3 separate regions of the Homo sapiens genome follow, and regions 2 and 3 are each linked to region 1. The links come from fine-mapping of genetic effects on gene expression. A gene starts in region 1. Each other region holds a variant in brackets. All regions are shown on one strand. Distances are from middle to middle.

What was found.
Region 2: its variant is fine-mapped to the expression of NDUFAF1 in anterior cingulate cortex (GTEx, PIP 0.97).
Region 3: its variant is fine-mapped to the expression of NDUFAF1 in whole blood (INTERVAL, PIP above 0.99).

The regions. Positions count from the first base shown.
Region 1 is chr15:41,401,110-41,403,866 of GRCh38, reverse strand. NDUFAF1 (NADH:ubiquinone oxidoreductase complex assembly factor 1) reads left to right here and starts at 1,371. Exons shown (of 5, transcript NM_016013.4): 1 at 1,371-1,723.
Region 2 is chr15:40,929,098-40,931,854 of GRCh38, reverse strand. It overlaps DLL4 (delta like canonical Notch ligand 4), which reads right to left and starts at 2,515. Exons shown (of 11, transcript NM_019074.4): 1 at 2,121-2,515; 2 at 1,739-2,008; 3 at 1,173-1,230; 4 at 89-352. The coding sequence starts at 2,186. RefSeq lists a silencer at 2,621-2,710. The variant C/G (reference allele first, on the strand shown) is at 1,566.
Region 3 is chr15:41,467,907-41,470,663 of GRCh38, reverse strand. It overlaps RTF1 (RTF1 homolog, Paf1/RNA polymerase II complex component), which reads right to left. Exons shown (of 18, transcript NM_015138.5): 7 at 272-407. Among named protein-coding and RNA genes, the nearest start is that of ITPKA, 25 kb to the left of the region's middle. The variant G/A (reference allele first, on the strand shown) is at 1,053.

The DNA.
Region 1 (2,757 bases):
GCGGCGCGGAAACTAGTGAAGGAGAAAACATGGAAAGGGCTAGTGTATTTAGTGAGCTCCTTCGGAACCTTAGAGAACAAAGGTGTTACGGAACTATATGCTCTCAAATTCACACTAAGCACTAAATTCCCGCCGCTATGGTACATTCTGGGGAAAGGAAAAACAGCGCAGTCTGGACCCAAGAAAGCTCACAGCGTGGCAAAGGAAGTGAGAAGTGAGTGAAAGATACAATGTTGATTCTGTCTTCCCTGGCAGTAAGAAAAAAAAACAAAAACAAACAATGTTTAAGTGCTTTGGCCGGGCATGGTGGCTCACGCCTGTAATACCAGCACTTTGGGAGGCCGAGGTGGGTGGATCATGAGGTCAGGATTTCGAGACCAGCCTGGCCAACATGGCGAAACCCCATCTCTACTAAAAATACAAAAATTATCCGGGTGTGGTGGCACACACCTGTAATCCCAGCTACTTGGGAGGCTGAGGCAGGAGAATTGCTCCAACCCAGGAGTCGGAGGTTGCAGATCGCGCCACTGCACTACAGCCTGGGCAACAGAGTGAGACTCCGTCTCAAAAAAAAAAAGTGCTTTAAGAGAGGTGTGCACAAGGTACAAACAGATGCCCTGAGCAACTGGCGACCGTGTGGGGCGAGACTCGGGAAGGGCTGGTAGGAGGGGCTGCTGTCCAGGTGCGTGGTGGTCCTCAAGAATTCATGGGGGCAATTCCAGCAGAATCGGCCTTTTGAGGCCTCAGGCAGTTCTTGTGGGGACCGAGGCGACAGATAAGGAAGGAAGGGATACAGGCGCGTTAGCAATAACTGGGTTCTATTTGAAAGACGCAGGGGGCCGGGCTTGGTGGCTCGCGCCTGTAATCTCAGCACTTTGGGAGGCCGAGGCGGGTGGATCACGAGGTCAGGAGATCGAGATCATCCCGGCTAACATGGTGAAACCCCGTCTCTACTAAAAATACAAAAATTAGTCGGGCATGATGGCGCGCACCTGTAATCCCAGCTACTCGGGAGGCTGAGGCAGGAGAATCGCTTGAATCTGGGAGGCAGAGGTTGTAGTGAGCCGAGATCGCGCCACTGCACTCCAGCCTGGGCGACAGAGCGAGAATCCGTCTCAAAAAAAAAAAAAAAAAAAAAGACGCAGGGATGGAGTTTGCCGCCTGAAAGGATACAGGAAGGAGAGGCGAAAAACTTATCTGAATTCTCACTGCTTCCTTACAACTGGCGACCAAGTGGACCAAAAACCTCCAAAAACCTCAGTTGGCTGGGCTACGGGGTCCTTGCTGTCCTTCCTGGGCTTCTGTACTCGGCCGGAACTTTGGTGTTCTGACGCCTTGTTTGGCATCGGAAGGGAAAAGCAGATGGACCTATACGGGTAAAGTGGCTTCTGGGCGGAAGGTACACTATAGGCTCGGGGAGGTAAGCGGCGGCAGGCCGGCGGTTGGTGTGTCCCGGGTGTGGGGAGGCGACAGAGCCCTGGCACTTGAGGGTTGAGGGGGCCTCCCCAGCGCGGCGAACCGTCTAGCCTCCGGAGGCCAGGCCGTGAGTGCGGGAGGTATACGCCAAGGCGGAAGAATTTTGCCACTCACTACCTGTGTGACCTCGGGTAAATTAGCCTTGGAACGTCAGTTTCTTCGTCTCTATAATTGAAATAATAATAGTACCTCTCTCAGGATTGTTGTGAGCCGTCAGTGAAACACTTAGAGCAGTTTCTGGCACATGGTAAGGCATGGATAGCTTTACTAATTCTACTCACTTCTAGCTGCGTGGATTGTGTTGTCAAAACCCACCGTCAACCTCAGGGCGGTATTGTCCAGTTAATAGTTTAGATTTTCTGTTTACTGGTAGAAAAAAAAAAATGAAACAAAGCATTTATAATTAAAGTTATATTATTAGAGAAGTAACACTACGGAGGGTTTGGAAAACATTTTATGAGCTATCATTTGTTTCTCAAATTTCGGTATGTGTAGAGGTAAAATCATTTAAGTGCAACCGGCGCGGGGGAATTTAAATATTATCCATAATTCCGGGACCTCAGATCAACTGTTAATTTTTCCTGGTTCCCTTAACGTTTATAATACATGTGAAAACATACTGTTTACATGGTTTTGATTTATCAACAAACCTTATTGATAATGTCGGCTGGGCGCGGTGGCTCACGCCTGTAATCCCAGCACTTTGGGAGGCCGAGGCGGGCGGATCACTTGAGGTCAGGAGTTCGAGACCAGCCTGGCCAACATGGTGAAACCCTGTCTCTACTAAAAATACAAAAATTAGCTGGGCGTGGTGGCGCACGCCTGTAATCCCAGTGACTGAGGCAAGAGAATTGCTTGAAACCAGGAGGTGGAGGTTACAATGAGCCGAGATCGCACAACTGCACTCCAACTTGGGGGACAGAGCTGGACTCTGTCTTAAAAAAAAAAAAAAAAAAGTTGGGCATGGTGGCGGGCACCTGTAATTTCAGCCACTCGGGAGGCAGAGGCAGGAGAAGCACTTGAACCCGGGAGGCGGAGGTTGCAGTGAGCCAGGGTCGTGCCATTGCACTCCAGCCTGGGTGACAGAGCGAGACTCCATCTCAAAAAAAAAAAAAAAAAAAAAGGTTGGGCGCCGTGGCTGACGCCTGTAATCCCAGTACTTTAGGAGGCCCATGTAGGCGGATCACCTGAGGTCAGGAGTTCGAGACCACTCTGGCCAACATAGTGGAACCTCATCTCTACTGAAAAAACAAAAACAAAAACAAAAATTAGCCGGGCATG
Region 2 (2,757 bases), 470 kb after region 1:
CAAGGGAGGCAAGCTGTGACCAAGAAGCTCCACTGTGTTTCCTCAGGGGACCCTCCCCTTCCACACAGGTGGGAGCTTGACTGCTTACGCTGTTGGCAATATTCCCCAGTCCAACCGGGCAGGCAGGACAAGTTGCCATCTGGCTGGCACACATAGTGGCCGAAGTGGTCATTGCGCTTCTTGCACAGGCGGGAGCAGTTGTCTCCATAGTAGTTGTCACTGCAGATGACCCGGTAAGAGTAGCGCAGCCTTGTGAGGGTGCTGGTTTGCTCATCCAATAACCAGTTCTGACCCACAGCTAGGGAGCCCTGGATGGCGATCTTGCTGATGAGTGCATCTGGTGGCAAGGCCTCTGAGGGGGCAGAGGGTCGGGTCAGGGAAGGGTCGCCAGTCCCCAAGGGTGCCAGTGACGGCTGGCCAATGTCCTTCTTGGCTGTGATGATGGTGATCAGCCAACCAATCAGCCCAGTTATCCAGATGACCCCCGCCTGCCAGCAAGAACAGGCCAGAGGGACCCAAAGCCCCGCTACGTAGCTGCCCTACGTGTGTGCATGTGCAGGGGGCCTGATAGTATTCAAAAAGGGGACAATAGAAGGATGTTAAGATATCCCAGGGTCTTGGAGGCAGATAGGGAGGGGAAAGAGGAAAAGAGGTCAAAATGGAAAAAAGAGAAAAAGAAAGAAAAGCTCCCCAGGCTAGAGAGGACCCTGGGAGCAGGGGGTCCTTTGGTGCCCATTCAGGGGTTCTGCCTCCAGAGGTGGGTAATGGTTTTCTTTTTTCCTTTTCAAAGTGAGAATTGTTGTGCTGCTGAAATATCCTTTTCCTCTGTGTCAGAACAACATCCCAAAGCCATTATTCCCTTTCCAAAGGAGCGGAATTCGCGAAAGGTGTAAAATACAGGAAGGGGCCCGTCAGCGGCGCTGGCAGCTTCAGCCTTTCTCACCGCCGTACTCCCCGCGTTCCCACGCCAAAAATAACCCGCAGGAAACGCAATTGTGCTCTGAGTCCAGGCAGCGAGCGGAATCCGAGCGTCCAGCGCGGGGCGCAGCTCCAGGCCAAGCTAAGCGTCCTGCCTCCCACCCCCAAGCCCGCACTTCCCCCGCCTAGAACAGATTAACTCTTTCGGCGCTGCGCCGTGTCGCCCCCCTGTGGTGGCGGAGCGAGCTACTCACCTGGCCGCAGGTCGTCTCCTGGCGCGTGCCAAGCTTCGATGATGAGCGAGAAGGTACCCTGGGAAAGGGGGTGGGGGGACGGAGAGATGGCGAGATGAGCAAGCGGGGAGAGGTGGGGGTGCCTTGCGGCAGCCTGTTTAATTAATCTAATTGCAGGATTCAGTTACTGCGCCCGGGTCAACATAACGGGGCTGTGCACAGTGTAGCGCTTGAGCAGGGAAGGCGAGAGGAGAACCCCCGGTAGAGGGAGGGTTGAGAGACGGGAGAGTGTAAGGGAGAGCCACTGGAGGAGGGGGTGGTAGGGTACCGCCCCAGAGTGGTAGGTAATGAAAATCGTGTCCCAAGAGCTGGGGACGGGAGGACATAAACTGGGAAGACGGAGACTGGTGAGAG[C/G]CTTTTCTGGGATCAGTCTCAGGAGAGAGTCGGGAAGAGCCAGGAAAGAATGCATCCTGGGCTTTTTGGGGGTGGGGGTGTGTGTACAAGGAAATCTGGGGAGGGGGCTTTGGTCCCAGGGCGCCTCCTCTCTCGGCTTCTGCGACCTCCCAGTGCGCCCAGGCTGTGCTCACCGGCCAGGTGAAATTGAAGGGCAGTTGGAGAGGGTTGCGCCCCCCGCCGCTACTGTCGTCCCGGACAGCGAAGGAGTTGGTGCCCAATACCGGCGTGGAGACGGTCCCGAAGGTGCAGGGTCCGGGCGAGACGACCGCCTGGAAGTGCTTAAGGCAGACGCGGAAGAAAGTCCGGCAGCCGGGCTCGCAAGGCCGCCCACTGGCCAGTACGCCGCGCTCGTTGATGAACTCCTGCAGCTGCAGCTGGAAGACGCCGGAGCCGGCCGCGCGCTATTGCACAGGGACCGAGGGAAGGAGGGAGGGGACCGGTCAGCTCAGCTGGTGCCCGGGGCTGAGGCCCAGAGCGCGGCAGAGGGGACGGAGAGGGCGCGGGACGTGTTACCTGCTGCCAAAGTGCCACCAGCAGCAGTAGCGCCCAGCCAGAGGCGCTCCGGGACGCTGCCGCCATCCCCTCGGGCGTCGCTCTCTCCACCCGCGGGCCCTCAATCTGGCTCTGTTCGCGACGCCGCTTTCCCGCGCGTCCGCCAGCCGGCGGGGTCCCTGAAAAGAGGCGCTCCTCTCGGGACGCTGCTCCCCTTTGGCCTTCTCGCTGGCTCCGCTGCAGCTGCCGCTGTAGGTAATCCAGGTGACTACGGCTGGGCGGCGACCGCGCCGAGGACGCGTCTTCTGTCTAATCCTGGGGCTGCAAGCGGGCTAGTGCCGGTGTACGCTGCACCAAGGCGGCTGGGGCTGCGGCTCTTGGCCTCGTGTTCCCGGCCTGCGCGCAGCGCCGCTACTGAAACCTGCGCGCTGGGGGCCTTCCTTATATATATTGGCTCCTCTCCTCGCCGCCTGTCACTCAGACTCATGGTCATTCTCCCCTCCCCTCCCGGCCTCTAGCTGCTACAGTCCCAGCGCCGCCCGGAGGGGGCCTCCGCCCCCGCCGCTCCCCCCTCCCCGTCAGCCAGTCGGGCGCAGGTCCCCGCCCCTCCGTGCCGCTCCCAACCTCTAGGTCCCCCAGCTCTGCGCGTGCCGAGGTG
Region 3 (2,757 bases), 67 kb before region 1:
AAAAAAAAAAAAAGAAAATGAATGAAAGCTCCAGGCCAATCTGAGAATGACACGAAGTCAGTTCCTACCTTCCAGGCCCAGGTGAAATGTCTAAGCGTACAGGCTAGCAGCCAAATGAATGGGCTGACGTGCTGGGGAACTCAGTTCAGCAAACCAAAGGTAACCATGTCAGAGTTAGTGGCCCAACCAGGGAGATTTTGGAAACGATACCAAGCTCTTCCTCAAAAACCCACCTATCCTGCCTACTAGACCAAAATGTACAAGAGCTTACTCCTCTTCTTCATCAGACGATGATGTTCGTGATGAGCGGTCTGACTTTTCACTGGATTTGTCATCCTCTTCCTCCTCTTCATCATCAGAGTAGACCTCACTGGTTTTTAATGGCTGTTTTTTGGCAAGGAGCTCAGCTAGAAAGAAAGAAGAGATGTTTACCTAGGTTTTCTCAACAAGAAAATGAATTCATCCTTGAAAAAGAACTGGAAATGGAAGAGGACTCAAATACACAGCTCCGTCCTCTCTAGACTGGATTGTGCTAACTTGGGGTATATACAGAAATGAGTTAAAACACAGAGTTAAAATTATTCAGGTGCCAAATGTCAGGCCCCAGCAGATGAAAAAAGGGCTGGAAGATTGATACTAGGTGGGCAGAAAGGGTCACCAACACTACTGACAGTTCTCTTTTATGGCACTCAAGACACTTGACTATGGGGAGGAAAGAGGGGGAAAGACTCATGATGACTTCAGAAGCTTCTGAGGAAAATTTAAAATAGGAGAGTGGCTAAATCACCACTGGTACATCTACCAATGAACTACTATGCAGCTATAAAAAAGGAACGTGGGGACGGGTGCGGTGGCTTACGCCTGTAATCTCAGCACTTTGGGAGGCAGAGGCAGGTGGATCACTTGAGGTCAGGAGTTCGAGACCAGCTTGGTCAACATGGTGAAACTCTGTCTCTACTAAAATACAAAAATTAGCCAGGCATTGTGGCCGGCACCTGTTATCCCAGCTACTTGGGAGGCTGAGGCAGGAGAATCGCTTGAACCCGGGAGGC[G/A]GAGGTTGCAGTGAGCCAAGACTGTATACCACTGCACTCCAGCCTGGGCAACAGAGCGAGACTCCATCTCAAAAAAAAAAAAAGGAACGTGGCCAGGCATGGTGACTCATGCCTGTAATCCCAGCACTTTGGGAGGTCGAGGTGGGTAGATCACTTGAGCTCAGGGGTTTGGGACCAGCCTGGGCAACATGGTGAATCTGCATCTCTACCAAAAATACAAAAAACAAACCAGGAGTGGTGGCTAAAAAAAAAAGAGAGAGAAAACTGTGTATAATATGCTACCATTAATCTAAGATGGCAGGTTAATCTGTGTACTTACGATTTAAAAAGAAAAAAGAATAATATAAAAAAATTTTAGGCTGGGAGTGTTGGCTCATGCACTTTGGGAGGCCAAGGCAAGGCGGATCACTTAAGGTCAGGAGTTCAAGACCACCCTGGCCAACATGGCTAAACCCCATCTCTACTAAAAATACAAAACAAAATTAGGTGGTGGTGCACGCATGTAGTCTCAGCTACTCAAGAGGCTGAGGTGGGAGAATCGCTTGAACCCGGGAGGTGAAGGTTGCAATGAGCCGAGATCGCGCCACTGCACTCCAGACTGAGTAACAGAGAGAGATCCTGTCTCAAAAAAGAGAGAGAGAAAAAGATGGATGGAAGGAAGGAAAAATAACTGCAATGGATTAAAACACATAAAGCACGTTAAAAATGATGAGTTCACAAGGATATTCAAAATAAATAAAACCCATCAGTCATCTTTGGAAGTTGCTAAAAACTATCTCTCTCTCTCTCTTTAAAATATTGCAGAAACAGGGTCTCACTATGTTGCCCAGGCTGGTCTTGAATTACACATGTGAGCCACTGTACCTTGCCAGGAACTATCTCATTCTTTCAAAAACTGGTAAACGAAAGGAAAATTAATCAAGCATTTATCTTGCCTTTCCTGTTCAAAATGTGCCTGGGGGGTAACTAAATAGCTGATTAGAAGTTTCTCTTTAGGCCGGGTGCGGTGGCTCACACCTGTAATCCCAGCACTTTGGGAGGCCGAGGCGGGCGGATCACAAGGTCAGGAGATCAAGACCATCCTGGCTAACATGGTGAAACCCCTTCTCTACTAAAAATACAAAAAATTAGCTGGGCGTGGTGGCAGGTGCCTGTAGTCCCAGCTACTCAGGAGGCTGAGGCAGGAGAATGGTGTGAACCCAGGAGGCGGAGCTTGCAGTGAGCCGAGATCGCGCCACTGCACTCCAACCTGGGCGACAGAGCGAGACTCCGTCTCAAAAAAAAAAGGTTTCTCTTTATAGAAGCAGGCTAGATAATGAATGAGGAAAGAATGACAGATTCGAAATATCACCATTTTGCAACTCCTAATGAATTAAATTATCTAGGTAATGACCATCAGTGGCTACTAGGACAGAACACGTTATTATTTCTTTTTCTTTTTTTTTGAGACAGAGTCTCACTCTTGTTGCCCAGGCTGGAGTGCAATGGTAGGATCTTGGCTCACTGCAACCTCCACCTCCCGGGTTCAAGTGATTTTCAGTGCCTCAGCCCCACAAGTAGCTGGGATTACAGGCATGTGCTACCACGCCTGACTAATTTTTGTACTTTTAGTAGAGACGGGATTTCACTCTGTTGGCCAGGCTGGTCTCCAACTCCAGACCTCACGTGATCTGCCTGCTCTGACCTCACAAAGTGCTGGGATTAC